Linked DNA regions of Homo sapiens: region 1 is linked to region 2. A link means that fine-mapping ties the variant in region 2 to the expression of a gene that starts in the linked region. Tissue or cell type: whole blood. Region 2 holds a variant in brackets; the other region holds the start of a gene. All regions are shown on one strand. Distances are from middle to middle.

What was found. PIP is the estimated chance that this variant, and not a neighbour inherited with it, causes the effect.
Region 1: it holds the start of NSG1, and the variant in region 2 is fine-mapped to the expression of NSG1 in whole blood (INTERVAL, PIP above 0.99).

Annotation. Positions count from the first base shown.
Region 1 is chr4:4,382,774-4,390,956 of GRCh38, reverse strand. It overlaps NSG1 (neuronal vesicle trafficking associated 1), which reads right to left and starts at 3,855. Exons shown (of 5, transcript NM_014392.5): 1 at 3,784-3,855; 2 at 3,199-3,353. The coding sequence starts at 3,327. LOC112268462 (a long non-coding RNA gene) reads right to left here. Exons shown (of 3, transcript XR_007058004.1): 3 at 6,348-6,435.
Region 2 is chr4:4,344,876-4,353,032 of GRCh38, reverse strand. No RefSeq gene overlaps it. Among named protein-coding and RNA genes, the nearest start is that of NSG1, 38 kb to the left of the region's middle. The variant A/C (reference allele first, on the strand shown) is at 3,236.

The DNA of each region.
Region 1 (8,183 bases), 38 kb before region 2:
CCACCCCCACATCCTCCTCTCCCCCTGCCCCTGCCACAGCCCCCAAAGGGTCTCCCTGCTCTCATTCCCCTCCACCCCCTACTGTGAAGCAGAACGATGTTTGTCCAACCTGGAAACCAGCCCTTGCATCTGCCCTACACCCCAGCAGCTTCAGATGGACCCAAGAAGCCTCCCAGCCCTGGACACTCACAGCCCTGGCCTCAGCGGCGCTGCCTTCATCACTCACCACACCCGTTGCCAGGGACTGTTTACTTCTCTGTCCCACTGGACTGGGAGGTGTTCAAGAGCAGGGTCAAGGTGTTATAGGTCTCTAATCCCCAAACCCCGCTCCCCAAGCCAGGTTCCAGGAGAGGCTGTTGCACTAGAGACAGCCAGCCACCTCCAAGCTCTTTCTCCCCCGAGGGACGAGGCCCCTTCATTGGGCAGTCCGTCACCTGCTCTCCACGATGGTGGGGACCAGGACAGAACAAAGAGACCCCAGCAACTGGGGATGGTCAGCCCCAGGCGGGCAGCCAGAGGGCCTCTCATCCGGTGCTACGACCCCCAAAGCCAGCCTTGGGGAGAAAGAACAGCGGAGCCCATTCCAGGGTCACTGAAAAATGATCCCAAGAGCCATAAACCTTGTAACCACACTCTTGGCCTCTGACCCCAACTCCTTTTCCACCCAGTGCTCCTGCGGTGGAGAGGGAGGGGTGCCTGGCATGGGTTGGCCTGGGCACCCACCCCTGTGAGGCACTCATTGCTTGAGGCAGTGGTTGGGTGTCACCCTGCCATCCTCAAACCCCGACTGGACCCAACTAGCCATGTGACCTTGAGCACGCAGGCCTAGACTGGCCAATGAATGGGAAATAAGGCTACTGCTGAGGATGAGGAAACCCATGGAAACCTCTCCCGTATGTGGGGGCCCCATCAATATTCTGTCGACCTGGATTCTATCCCCACCTGCCACTAACAGGCTAGGTGACCTTGGGCAATTCTCAAACTCTCCGTGCCTGCATTTCCACATCTGCAAAATGGGGGTAACATGGTAGTGACCTCATGGCATTATCAACACATTAAAAGAATTTAAACCTGTAAAACTGGCAGAATAGTTCCTGGTGCAGAATAAGTGTCTGGCAAATGTCAGGGGAGACCAGCCCTGACTCTGCTGCCAGCACTGTGACTGCTGTCACCGCTGCACCCCAGCACCTCAGCACTCCATACACGTTCTCAGAACAGATTCTCATTTATAACCCAACTGTGTCACCACCCCTCAGAAGCCATGTCACCTGAAACAGGTGACATCGCCTCCCTGAACTCTGACCGTTAGCAACACGTTGCTGTTGTTCAGGTTAAGAGAGGTCTTACGTGAGAGACATCTGGCTCCAAGCACAGTGGAGTAAGAGGCACTGCCAGAAACTTCTGCATCCTGGAGGACTGTAACCTTCAGCCCAGTGACCTTGGGTATGTCCCATAAATGCTCTGAGGCTCAGTTCCCTCATTGTGACCTTAGAAGCCTTCTGGAAAATGATCCCAAGAGCCATAACCCTTGTACCCACACTCAGTCCCGGCGGGAAGTCCGGGATGGAAGGTCTGGCTGGACCCGAGAAGAGCATCCCTGCTGGCTGCCCCGCTTCGGACGCTTGCAGAGAGAGCAGACTCATCACCTTTCCGAGCTGCCTAGGCTACTCCTGGTCGACCTAATTAGTTGGTGAGGATTTCATACCTGCCTGAAACCCTCCTCCCTGTATAAACCAACTGTGCCAAATGGTTCTGGAATGGAACAGACTGAGGACAAGAGAGGAGGCTCAGGCCAAGTGAGGGGAATCACCTGATAGAGGTGCTGCCTCAGGACACGGAGTTCCTGGCACAGGCGCCACTGCTCCTCAGCCGAGCAGCTGGGGGCCCAGGCAGGAGGGGGTGTGGGGGCCTCGGGGCCAGGCCCCGCTAACTGGACGAGTCTGATGCCTAGACAGGGAGGGGTGGAGTGGAAGCTGAGGCCTCAGGCAGCCCTGCCCCTCCTGCAAAGCCTAGCCTGGACCATCAGTGGCCCAGAGTGGCACCACCGTGGCCTGGGGGGCACAGGTGTGGCCGGCTGATCCCCCTTTCTTGAACTGAAACCCCCGCTGCCAGCCTCTTCCCGGCTCCTGCCTCCCTCCCCAGACGACACACACAATAAAGCTGGGAGGACACCTTCACAGGGGTCAGGGCCCCCACCAGGACACCCCCACCCCACAACACCCACCCCGTCAGCAATCACCAACTTGCTGGAACGAAGACAGAGCCCTGGCTCAGAGCCCCTTCACCAGGGACTAAATGAGAAAATAAATAGAAAAGCACTTCCGGGAATTATTCGTGGCTGTGGTGGTTCGTAAGCGGCAGCAAGATGCTGAGAGTAGATGCTGTGTCTATGGTCTTAGATGTGAATTTTACAGTACAATTGCCTAGACATGCAAAGATCTATTTACATTTTTAAGTGTTAACTCTTGGAAATATTATTCTTAGCAAACAGAAACTACTTAATTGGATGCTACATTCAAAAAGAGGAGATTCTTTAAATTCAGCAGAAAACACTTTGGGGAAAGGTTGATGAATGGTTTTTCCCAGTGACACCAATACTGAGCGAGCCCGGGCACTTATTTGGAGATTTCACAAAAGGAACAAAGAGGAAGGAGACCCTGTGTGAGCGCGCACACCCTCCTGCACCTAGCGCCAGCCTGGCAGGGGCAGGCAGAAAGGGCGAGAACAATTCAGCCCTGGGGAGGGGCCATCTGACCAAGGAGAACGCTCCCCCGCCTCGGTGGGGCAAGTCGGGCTGAACTGCCACACCCGGGAAGGTACAGGGGCAGCCTCGCCCGCCCCTAGGCTCACCCCCGATCCAGAGCCCCTGGGGCCACGGGGCAAGGGAGGAGCAGGGCAGCTGCGGGGCCAGGGCCCTCTCGGATGAGGCTCCCAGGAAAAACGCGAAGGAATCTTGCCCCACCGCGTTCCACTGTCAGGACGAGAATATCATCTAAGGCAGGGCTCCCCTCCCCCGCCCAGCATCCCGCGATCCAGAATCCCGCGCGGGTACACTGTCCTCGCCGCGCTCCCTCCGGCCTCCCGAGCCCGCCCCCACTTCGCGTACCCAGCGCACGCGGCGCGTTTCTTTTGTTGCGCCCGCCGTGCGAGATTTGGGGGTGCACACCCGGCAACGTGGAGGGGCGTGGGGGGGCTTACCTTATCCGGGGGCGGGAACTGCAGCTGATTGACATCGAGGGGCGTCATCAGGGGAATGGTGTCGAAGCCATCCTCCAGCAGCGGCTGCTTGGTGCCCTTCTCTGCGAAATTGTTCCCCAACTTCACCATCGTTCCGGGAGCTCCGAGGCTGCAGCCTGCGGCGGGAGGGCCGGGGGGAGTCACCACAAGCAAGACCCGGGGCGGGGCGGGGGGGAAGTGGGCACCCACACCCACCGGCGTCCCGGCGTCCGCGAGCTCCCCGGCCCCGCTTCGTCTCGGGGAGGGCTCGTGGGGACGCGGTGGTCACGGCCCGATGCGGGGGTCGGGTGGTGCTGTGTATTTCTAGACCCTCATCTCGCAGGACCCAAGCGCCGGGCGCAAGGGCGCACCGCGGCCAGGGAAGGGGGCGCCGCCCCTGCCCAGCACCTCCAGACCCGGTCCCCGGTCCTGGGGCCGCCGCACCCGGGCGACCCGCTGTTCACAGCCCCGTCCCGCGTACTCCGGGAGATGGGCATCCCCCGGGCACTGCTCCTGGGCGGGCAAGGTCTGGCCTCGGCAAGCCCAGGCGCGGCCGGCCGCACTCACCCACGCCCGGCTCCGGCAGGTCAGCTGAGCGCTCCGAGCTCCGCGTCTCCTGCTCCTGCTCGCAGCAATGGCGGAGGCGGCGCCGCGCGCGGACCCGGGAAGGGGAGCGAACGATTGGGCTCCACGGCCGCTCCCTCCTCCTCGCGCCGCCGCCTCCCTTCCTGCCTCTCCCGGGGGCTGGGTGCGCGCGGGTGGGTGCGCGCGTGTGGCCGCGCCTCCACCTTGACGCAGCGCCCGCCCGGCCGCACAAAGGAGTGCGGGGCTGGGCGGGAGCCTCCCCTGGGACCACGCGCCCGCCCTGAGCCGGGGGAGGGAACAGGGGAGCGGGAGAGGACGCGCCCCCAGGGGGTCTCGGAGCGGCGGAGGGCGCCCGGAGCGGGAGGGCTGCGGGCTGCGCCACCCCGGGCGGCGGCCTGGGCGCGAGGCGCTTAGAAAGGAGAAAGGGGAGGCGGGGACCGTAGGGACAGAGCGACCCCCAGGGGTGCGGGGAGGTGCAGAGAGGGTCCCCGCCCGCAGCGCGCCGCGCTCACCTGGGGGTCCTGAGGACGTTCAAGGGTTTGGGGGGATGGGTCCAGGAGGCGCTGGGTGGTGGCGGAGACCAGAGCAGGGTGCTCCTTAGTGCTGGGTTGGGGAGGGGGCGACCAAAAGAGGGCGCGTCCGCGTATAAAGGGGGCGCGGCCCGTAAAGGAGGCGCGGCCCGTAAAGGAGGAGGAGGTTTTCGGTGGTGCGGGAGGCGGAGTAGCGCTCTCCCAGGGCTGGGGTGTGGGCGCCCAGGGTGAGGCTGCCCCAGGCAGCGGGAGGGAAGTCGTTCTAGGCAAAGAGCGCTCAGTGCGCCGCTTGGAGGGAGGCGGAAAGGTTCCTCCGCTCTGGTTGGCAGAGAAGGTGGAGGTCCCACTGCAGCCGCCGCCCGAGCATCCTGGGCACAGAGGAGGGGCCGCTGGGACGATGCCCGGACGCGGAGAGAAGGGGGGTGGTTCTAGCCCGACCTGCGCCCCCAAACCCCGAGCTCAGCCGCTGTCGCGGCTTCCCAGAGAGGGTCCTGTTTGCAGACCTCCAACCCGTCCTGCCTGCAGGACTCACGGATGAAAGACTATGGGGTGTGGGGGCGAGGCCGAAATGGGAGTGGAGCCCGCGCGGGAGGAGGCCGGCTGCGGGGATCGGTGCCTCCTGGGCACCTGGGCCAGGAGCTGGGCCCTGTCAGGCGCTGGACGAGGAGGAGGCATCACCCAAATTCGATACTTTTTCACACCCTTTCCGGGGACTTCCCCGCGGCACTACGGAGGGTCCGGGGCGTTTTCCATCAGCCGTCTGAGAATCCTGGGAATAAGCCCAGAGCACAGGAGCAGCCACCGCCTTGAGCCCCAGGCACAGCCTGGGAACTTGCCGCGGGTGCCCTGATTTCAAAATCCCCAGGAGGGCTAGCCGTCTTTGACAGGTGACCTAGTGGGTATCTCGTAACTCGCCCCAACTCTCCAGCCAGGGTCTAAGTGTGCCTTTGACCACAGGCCAGCCTGGTCTGAACCCAGGCTCCTGGCAGAGGCACCCCGCCCCCAACCCAGGGAAAGCGGGTGTCAGACTCTGGCCCCTGCCACGGGCCTCGGGGACCCACAGAACCCACCTTTTTGGCACTTTGATGCCTCCCTGAAGCAGGTGAAGAAGAGAAGATTTCTCTTGCTCCACTTCAGAAATCTGCCCAGGCATCTGCCATGAGAGTGACCCACTGGTCAGGAGAAACCCTTTGGGCTTAAGCAAGGAAATGGCTTTCCCGCACCCCCCCCCGCCCCGCCCCCCGTCTCAGGCTCAAGCATTTAACAGAACCCAACACACACGCGCGCGCGCAAACACACACACACACACACACACACACACACACACACTTGGTCAGAATTCCACACCAGGAGGAACAAAGTGGAGGCCCTGCCCCTCCCTTAGAGACTCTGTCAACTGAGGAGGACAGAAAGGCAAGAAGGACCTAGGTTGTCCCAGAGATGGACGGTGAACAATCATGTTTCTCTGCTAGCTGGCCTTTTGTGCTGTCTTGGGTCTTCACTGGTGCTGGTCATTGGGACTGTTTCATCCTGTGGTTTTCTTCCTCTGCTGATTGTATCTGGGCCCTGTGAAGGGCATGGACAATGCAAAATGCATGAGACACAGCGCCACCCGCAGGGAGCTACGGACAAGGGCAAGTCTTTGCTGGGAGCAGTGGCCCTGTGGGAGAGTGGCCTCTGCCTCTTGCCAGGAGGGAGGACATCCAGAGACTGTGGGTAAAGACTGTGGATAAAGCTTCCTACAGGTGGGCCTGAGAGAGGTGCGTGCAGAGGGGAAGGCATTCCAGGTAGGAGAACAGAATGTGTTAAGACAGTATATGAGCTTCCTGCCACTGTTGGAACAAATTTGGCTTAAAACAATAGAAACATGTTCTCTCCTGGCTTTGGAGGCCAGAAGTCTAAAGTCTAGGTCCCAGCAGGGCCTCACTCCCTCTACAAGCCACAGAGAAGAACCTGTTCTTTCCCCCTCCAGCTTCCAGTGGCTCCAGACATTCTTTGACTGTGGCTGCATCACTCCAATCTCTGCCTTCATGTCACTCCAGTCATATTGCCTCCTCCTCTTCTCTGTGTCTCTTATAAGGACACTCATCATAGGATTTAGGGCCTGCTGGGATAATCCAGGATAAGGTCTCCCTCTCAAAATCCTTAACTTAATCCTATCTTTGCCATATAAGATAATGTTCACTCTTTTACTATGTAAGGTAAATCAGGTTCCCGGGGTTAGCATGTGGACATATCTTTTAAGGGTCGCCATTCAGCTCACTACAGGCATTAAGCTTGCAAGGGTGTGGTGATTTGGAGAACCCAAGTCATTCACAGAGGGTGGCAGAAATTAGGTTGAAGAAGCCACAGCCACCAAAATGGGGATGGCTGAGGCTGCAATGGTGGTTGCAGGTCAAACAGATGTCAGGTATTTTCACAACATACAAAAAGGGAAAATCAATGGGATGCGATCTCCCCCTGGACCAGTTTCATCCCAGCACCAACAATTTAAAATCCAAGTGCCACAGAAGATTGTTGACACATACTCAGTTTTTCTAAATGACTCTTTTTTTTTTTTTTTTTTTGGGACGGAGTCTTGCTCCGTCGCCAGGCTGGAGTGCAGTGCCGTGATCTCAGCTTACTGCAACCTCCGCCTCCCTGGTGCAAGTGATTCTCCTGCCTCAGCTTCCTGAGTAGCTGGGATTACAGGCACGTGCCACCACTCCCAGCTAATTTTTGTATTTTTAGTAGAGACGGAGTTTCACCATATTGGTAAGGATGGTCCTGATCTCCTGACCTCGTGATCCACCTGCTTCAGCCTCCCAAAGTGTTGGAATTACAGGAGTGAGCCACTGCACCTGGCCCTAAATGACTCTTTTAGGAATACTTCCAGGGTTGCTGATCTCAGGCACAGACCCATCACTGCCTGTACGATTGTAACTCCTACCCTGCTCCCTCTCCTCAGGGCAGCCAGGCGCTGCTCTCTAATGACCCTGGTACTTCCAGGTCCAAGCGTTTTAGCAACTTCCCTTGTCCCACTGGTTGAAGTCCAGACTGTCACAGCAAGAGACAATGTGACACAGTGGCTAAGCCGTGGCCCGATTTTGAATCCTGTCCCTCTCTTCCTAGCAGTGTGACTTCAGGCAAGCTGCTTAACCTTTCTATGCTTCAGTTTCCCCATCTATAAATGGAGATAATGAAACCTCCATCAGAGCAGTGTTGTGAGAATCAAATGAGCTATTCTTATTTTTTTAAGTGCCTGTTTTAGGTATTACTATTGCTTTGACCTCTAATTCTGTACTCCTGTGGTCTCTATTCTTAGCAGCCGGTGCTGGAGCCAGGGCGAGGTGATAGACACTTTTCCTGGTTATGTGACAAGTGTTCAGAGTGACTAAGGTGACTCTTCCCCTAGAGGCCTCATGAGCCTCTTTGCAGGTCACAGAAGTCAAATGATGAGTCCCCGGCCACAGGCTTCCCTGCAGAGCTGGGATGGGTTGCAGGATCTAGTCAGGCCTCCCACAGCCAGCCAGATCTCCAGGATGGATGAGGTCCTGCTGGGAGGGTGGCCACCCAGTGCTGTCAGCCTATGGAGGTTCAGTGGCAGGTGATCAGCAGAGGTTCTGCTCTGTTTTTCTGCAGCCTGGCCACGTCGATCCAGCGATGCTTCATCCAAATGTCTTGTTTTTAGATTGAGATGTAATTCACATGCCACAGATATCACCAGTTTAAAGTATACGCTTAACTGGTTTTAGTATATTTACAAGGTTGTACAATCATCACCACTAATTTCAGAACATTTTCATCACCCCGTAAAGAAACCTGCATCCCACAACAGTCACTCCCTGCACACATCCTCATCTCTGATGGTTT
Region 2 (8,157 bases):
ATCTCTAGTGCTACTGGGGCAGGAATCTTTGGTGTGATTCTTTTGATCCCAACATAAATGGGCAAGCTAAGCTGACCAAAAGAGGGAGTACACCAGACAAAACAAACTCAAATTTGTGTTATACTATCTCAAAATTGAGTTGTCTCATTTCTCGGTTGGGGGCAGCACCAGTGTTAAAACTAACAAATGGGCCGAGCCCGGTGGCTCACGCTTGCAATCCCAGAACTTTGGGAGGCCAAAGTGGGCAGATCACAAGGTCAGAAGTTCAAGACCAGCCTGGCCAACACAGTGAAACCCCCTGTCTACTAAAAATACAAAAATTAGCTGGGTGTGGTGGCGGGCACCTGTAATCCCAGCTACTTGGGAGGCTGAGGCAGGAGAATCACTTGAACCTGGGAGGTGGAGGTTGCAGTGAGCCAAGATCGTGCCACTGCACTCCAGCCTGGGCGACAGTGGGAGACTCTGTCTCAAAAAAAAAAAAAAAAGAAAAAAGAAAAGTTAAAATGGGAGTTAATATATGTAATTAAAACTACTAGTTACAAAATAAACAATTTTATATACAGAAAATAAAAGAAAATTGAAAAGACAGAGTAATTTGTTTTCTTTTACATGAGAAAGAATTTTGTGTGGTCAAAATGATAAGGGAGAAAATAAACTTTTTTCCTAAGGTGGAATGCCAATAGGAAAAAGGAAGTATAGGCCAAAATTGAAGGTTACATGAACTGTAGAAGGTTTGTGGGAGATACGGCCGGGCATGGTGACCCAAGATAGAAGCACAAAAAGGTAGAAATAAATGAGGAGGCCGGGCGCGGTGGCTTATGCTCGTAATCCCAGCACTTTGGGAGGCCAAGGCAGGTGGATCACTTGCGGTCAGGAGTTTGAGACCAGCCTGACCAGTATGGTGAAACCCCCTCTCTAGTAAACATACAAAAAATTAGCTGGGTGTGGTGGTGCGCACCTGTAATCCCAGCTACTGGGGGAGGCTGAGGCAGGAGAATCCCTTGAACCTGGGAGGCAGAGGTTGCAGTGAGCTGAGATCGTGCCACTGCACTCCAGCCTAGGCGACAAAGCAAGACTCTGTTTCAAAAAAAAAAACAAAGATTTGTGGAAGATTAATCTCATGAAAGGAATTTTGTGTGTGATCAAGTTGGCTAAAATTAGAAGGGAATTATTTAGTTTTTCCAAAAACTGAGGAAACTGTGCATTAATATGAAAAGCACATTGATGCAGGGTCAGAGTATGGGCCTTAATGTTGGAATGACAGGGTTTTCTTGAAGCATCCATCTATTCTTTAATATAAAATTATATGAGTTTATAAAAGGTTTATGGAAATCTTATGTGGCCAAAGATGATTGAGATTGGATGGATTTGTTGATAATTAGGTTTTATTAAATTACCTTTAGCATTAATAATATGCTGATACAAAGGTAGAATTTGGTTTTATCTTTTGAACATGAGTTTCATATAATATTAATAAGATAATAAAAGACTCATGTTTACCTTTTGAGTAAACTGCAAAAAAAAAAAAGAGAAAAAAAGACTCCGTTCATCTCATTCTTCATGCTGTCTTTATTAGGCCTTTTGATTGGAAAACCGGGTCTCTTCTCTATCAAAGAGTAAAGAGGGTGCTTTTTGAAATCTTTAAATTATCACTTTGGCAAAATAAATGACTATTGTTTTACACTGACCTGTGATCCTATTTTAATTAAGTGTGCTAAATCTTCCTTTTTAAGAAGGAACTCCTGTGGCCCAAGAGAAACATATTAAGCCACCGTGGTATGTTAAAGTCATACAGGAAGCTTTGTCAAATAAGAAATGGTGTTTAAATTTGTTTGAGTTATATTTGTATAGATACGTTATGAATGTGTGTTCTCAAGTTATGAGATTCCTAACATTCTGATACGTCTATGTTGTCACACATAATTATAGTTATTATGTTAAATTATTGTATGCCACAGAAATAATCAAATTTCCTTGTTAATTACATCTTTAACTATAGCTACCCGAAGTCTTTTGCCATTCATAGACAATTATTGCTCTATTTTGATTCTTCTCAAAAAGTGATTTACAACTGGCTGCAGTTCAAATTTGCTTTTTCTTCAAAGAGATTCATGGAAAAGGACCCTGGCCCTGTACTCTTTTTTTTTTTTGAGACGGAGTCTTGCTCTTTCGCCCAGGCTGGAGTGCAGTGGCCTGATCTCAGCTCACTGCAAGCTCCGCCTCCTGGGTTCACGCCATTCTCCTGCCACAGCCTCCCGAGTAGCTGGAACTACAGGCGCCCGCCACCACGCCCGGCTAATTTTTTCTATTTTTAGTAGAGACGGGGTTTCACCGTGTTAGCTAGGATGGTCTCGATCTCCTGACCTCGTGATCCGCCCGCCTCGGCCTCCCAAAGTGCTGGGATTACAAGTGTGAGCCACCGCGCCCGGCCGGCCCTGTACTCTTGAATACAGGTTTTTGATAACTTCAAAGATCGTATCATTGGACCAAGTAAAAACATTCAGAACTCTAATAAACTAATGCATTCATGAAGATTGCTAACCCAACATCAAGCAAGACAAGAATTAATTACATGGGACTGAACTGATAGAGGACTGAAATGACTTTTATGATTTTTTGCCCAAAACATTGCTGATTCTTTTTATATTTTGATTTCCACAGTCAAGAAAACTTTTCTCTTTTGAACTATTTGTAGCTTATAGAAACTGGATAAAATATACCTTTGTAAACAAAATGGAAACATTTGCCTTTATCTCTACCTGATTTCCCCAAAACTTGGAAAATCTTCATGAGTATTCGTATTTTATGGCAATCAAGTTATTTGCATTAGTTCAGTAAGAATCTGTTTTCTGTCACAGGATACAATTTAAGACAATTTTTTTTTCAAATCAAGATTCTGACTGGAATGACGTATTTTCAGATATGATAACACTGCTTTGAGGAATTGAAATGGACTTTATAGAGCTGATAAAAAGCCTCTTGGCAAAACTGGCCTGCTATCTTGTCTACATAGTTCCCTTTCAAGGTTTCTAATCTTGCAGTAAATAAAGAATGTGTCTTTCTGATATGCCCAGGAACCAAAAGATATTTTGGGGACCTTGGGAAGAGAGAAATTCACCCAATTTGTACAAGTATTACAGGTGCAGTCTAGCGGTGAATCCTTGGTTTGATGTCCTAGCCTTGAGACTTTTAAAAGTCTAATCTGAAATTCCTTCTGAACGTTCCAGCAAAGTCA[A/C]CTTAAAAGGGTCTATATGGCCAATCACTATTCTTGCTGCACTTTATGCAAATAATCAGGCCAAGTATAATACTAAACTTTGGTAAAAATAGGGACTGGAGAAAAAAGTTAGGCTCCTGAAGAAAGCTATAGAACACCTGTTATTAGATTCCAGCCCCCGACCATTGTTTTTGAGTTCTTTTATTATTTTCCTACAATTTGAACTGAATCCCCAATGGAATAGGCTTTGTTACTATGTATCTCTCAGGGTTTTGCTTCTTCCAAGAAAACCAGAAAATGATATTCTGAAGAGTGGAGATGATTCAACAAGCAACAACAGCATTTATATAAATCAGTGGCTTGAATGAGGACTACCCAGGAATGAGACTTCCCAGCACTGAGGGATGAAGGACATCTATCACTGCCACCTGCACAGAGACTGATCATCAATGCTGCCATGGGAATAATTTTGATCAACAGGGGGGATATGAGAAAAGAAAAATAGCTCAGAGCAGGCTGAGAACTGAGAGATCTGCAGACCCACAGAGACATGGGTATGGAATTCCAGTCATTCCCTGGCCCCCTGTAGCCGGTGCCTACACCTGGGGACAATTGTTTAAAGTTATTTTGTTCCTACCGGTTGGGCGTGGTGGCTCACGCCTGTAATCCCAGTGAGAGGTGAAGCCAGCTGGGCTTCTGGGTTGGGTGGGGACTTGGAGAACTTTTCTGTCTAACTAAAGGATTGTAAACACACCAATCAGCGCTCTGTGTCTAGCTAAAGGTTTGTAAACGCACCAATCAGCGCTCAGTAAAAACGCACCAATCAGCACTCTGTAAAAACGCACCAATCAGCACTCTGTGTCTAGCTAAAGGTTTGTAAACGCACCAATCAGCACTCTGTAAAAACGACCAATCAGCACTCTGTAAAATGGACTAATCAGCAGGATGTGGTCAGGGCCAAATAAGGGAATAAACGCTGGCCACCTGAGCCAGCAGCTGCAAACCGTTGGGGTCCCCTTGCAGGATGTGGAAGCTTTGATCTTTGGCTCTTCACAATAAATCTTGCTGCTGCTCACTCTTTGGGTCCCCACTAGCTTTATTGTAACACTCACTGTGAAGGTCTGTGGCTTCACTCCTGAAGTCAGCGAGACCACAAACCCATCGGGAGGAACAAACAACTCTGGACGCGCCACCTTTAAGAGTTGTAACACTCACTGCTAAGGTCTGCAGCTTCACTCCTGAAGTTAGCGAGACCACGAACCCACTGGAAGAAGAAACTCGGGACACATCTGAACATCTGAAGGAGCAAACTCTGGACACACCATCTTTAAGAACTGTAACACTCACCGCGAGGGTCCGTGGCTTCATTCTTGAAGTCAGCGAGACGAAGAACGCACCAGAAGTAACCAATTCCAGACACACCAGCACTTTGGGAGGCCAAGACCAGCAGATCACAAGGTCAGGAGTTCAAAACCAGCCTGACCAACATGGTGAAACCCCATCTCTACTAAAAATACAAAAATTAGCCGGGCGTGGTGGCGCATGCCTGTAATCCCAGCTACTTAGGAGGCTGAGGCAGGAGAATCGCTTGAACTCAGGAGGTGGAGGTTGTGGCGAGCTGAGATTACACCATTGCACTCCAGCCTGGGCCACAGAACAAGACTCTGTCTCAAAAAACAAAAAAAGAAAAGAAAAAAAAAGTTATTTTGTTCCTGCCTAGCTGCCTCACTCATTATCTTCATGTTCCTGAAATGTGTGATAAAAAGAACAACCTATACCCAATCAAAACTTGTTATTTTACTACACGTTCTTGATAAACAACTCAGGAACTGCCTCTTCTTTTCCTTTAAAAATTTACTTTTAACTGCTGCTAATTGGAGTGTATATTCAGAGCAATTTGAATCTATGCTCCTGGGATGCAATCCTCAAGCTTGGCCCAAATAAACTTTGTACTTAAATGAATGTTGCCTCAGCTTCTTCCTTTTAAGTCAACAGAGGCAGCTGTGTTCCTCACTAGGGGTCTGTTTTCTAGGTAGATAGGGGAGCGTCAGAGAATAGCCTCCTCCAGTGCTTTGAGAGAGACAGAAGGTTGACAGGCAGGAGGAGAGGGATCAGAGAGACCTTGAGGCTGCTTCTTCAGGTCTGCATGGGAAGTGTCATATTGTGGGGAATTGTTTTCTGTGCTCCAACAATAGTATATGACATGGCCCCATATCTGTCCCAGAGAGAGGCCCTTGTCATACTTGGAAATTTTTCTCTTTATGACTCTTGTCATGAGTATCTCAAGTCCTTTTATTCTGCACAATTTTGTACACATTTGTGGTCCCACTGGATATACAATTTTGCATCCCTTCTCACTTAGCATAAGCATTCTTCTAAGTTAGCAAAAACCCTTTTATTTTATCAATGCCTATGGTTAGACATTTAAGCTAGTTTTAATTTGTTTCTGCCACTGTTTTTTTTTTTTTTTTTCAGATGTTGTAACAGCATCTTTGTATAGAAATTGTGACCACATCTCTGATTATTTCCTTGGGAGAGAGTTTTAGAAGTGGAATCATGGAATCAAATGGAATGGATCTTTTGGCCGCCCCTGGGAAACACTGTCCAATTGCTTCCCGAAAAGAGGCCACAGCAATGTAGGAAAGTGACTGTTCAAGAAACAGTTTCCAGCATTCACAATTACCATTTACAAAAACTTTCACTAATGAAGGCCAAGAAATGGCATCTTACATCAGTTAGTATTTATTTGATCACCAGGGGGTGAAAACATTTGCAGGCATGTTAACTAGTAATATTTTCTTCTGTGGGTTGCCTGTTAATTCTCTTTGCTTCTGACCTTTTATTTATTTTATTATTTCAATAGTTTTTGGGAGTACAGGTGGATTTTGGTTACATCACTGAGTTCTTTAGTGGCGAATTCTGAGATTTTAGTGCACCCATCACCCCAGCAGTGTACACTGTACCCAATATGTTGTCTTTTATCCCTCATCCACCTCCCAACCTCCCCCGATCCCTGCCCCAGCTTTTGACTTCTTAAAAGTACAACAAAAGGCCTGGCGTGATGACTCACGCCTGTAATCCCAGCACTTCGGGAGGCTGAGGCAGGCGGATCACCTGAGGTCGGGAGTTCGAGACCAACCTGGCCAACATGGTGAAACCCCATCTCTACTAAAAATACAAAAATAGCCGGGCATGGTAGTGCATGCCTGTAATCCCAGCTGCTTGGGAGGCTGAGGCACGAGAATTGCTTGAACCCAGGAGGCAGAGGTTGCAGTGAGACGAGATTGCGCCACTGCACTCCAGCCTGGGCAACAGAGCGAATCTCTGTCTCAAAGAAAAGAACAGAGATGCAGAGGCCAGGTGCGACGGCTCATGCCTGTAATGCAGCACTTTCGGAGGCCGAGGCAGGTAGATAGCTTGAGCCCAGGAGTTCGAGACCAGTTTGGACAAAATGGCAAAACCCATCTCTACCAAAATACAAAAATTAGCCAGTCTAATAACCTGGTCTCAAAATAAATAAATAGATTAAATTTTTCAAAAGAAAAAAAGAAAGATGCAGAGACAGACCCAGAGGAAGGAAGGCCATGTGACAACGGAGGCAGAGACTGGAGCGATGCAGCTACAAGCCAAGGTGGGCCAGGACCACCAGAAGTGGGAAGAGAAGAGGAAGGGTCCTGCCTTAAAGTCATCAGAGAGAGGACGGCCCTGCCAACACCTTGACTTTGGACTTCTGGCCTCCAGCACTGGGAGAGAATACATGTCTGCTGCTGAAGGCCACCCAGCTTGGGGTCATTTGTTCTGGAAGCCCCAGGACACTGACACAGGGCTTATGGCTGTCAGGGCAGGCAGGACGGTGTTGGCCAGGTGGCTGAGATGCAGCAGAGCTGGGTACATGTGGGCATCAGGGAGACTGGACTCAACCCCAGCTCTGCCACCCGGAGCTGACTGGCTTTGGATCAGCTATGTAGCCTCTCTGTGCCTCAGTTTCCCTTTCTGTAAGTTGAGGATACTAATAAGTGCCCCGTGAGGCTGCTATAAGAGTTGAAGGAGATGATGCAGCAAACTAACACAGGAACAGAAAAACAAACACCGCATGTTCTCACTCATAAGTGGGAGGTGAACAACGAGAACATGTGGACACAGGGAGGGGAACATCACACACCGGGGCCTGTTGGGGGTGGGGGTTTAGGGGAAGGAGAGCATTAGGAGAAATACCTAATGTAGAAGATGAGTTGATGGGTGCGGCAAACCACCATGGCACATGTATACCTATGTAACAAACCTGCACGTTCTGCACATGTACCCCAGTATAATAAAAAAGTATAATAAAAAAGAAGAAGAAAAAAAAATGGGAGGAGATGATGAATGCCTGCAACACCGGCCTCACACACAGTAGATGCCCAGATATTGTCATTCCTTTTCTTCTCCATTGCCTGGGCCCCAGCCTCATAACAGCCTGGGTTCAAGGCCAACTCTGCCCACCTCAGCTATATGACTCAGCAAATCACAAACCTCTCAAAGCCTCAGTTTCCTCATTTGTAAAAGGGCGCTATTAAGAGATCAAATGAGACATTGCATTCAAAGTCCTTCACCTGTTCCCCAGCTCATAGGAAGATCTCATCTGAAAGTGGTTAAGCAGTCTATGGCCATACCACACTGAACGCACCGGATCTCATTTAAAAGTGGTTAAGCAAGCGGCCAGGCGCGGCGGCTCACACCTGCTTTGGGAGGCCAAGGCAGGCGGATCACGAGATCAGGAGTTAGAGACCAGCCTGATCAACACGGTGAAATCCCGTCTCTACTAAAATTAGCTGGGCTTGGTGGCACGCACCTGTAACCCCAGCTGCTCAGGAGACTGGGGCAGGAGAATTGCTTGAACCCCGGAGGCTGAGGTTGCAGTGAGCTGAGATCGTGCCACTTCACTCCAGCCTGGGCGACAAAGG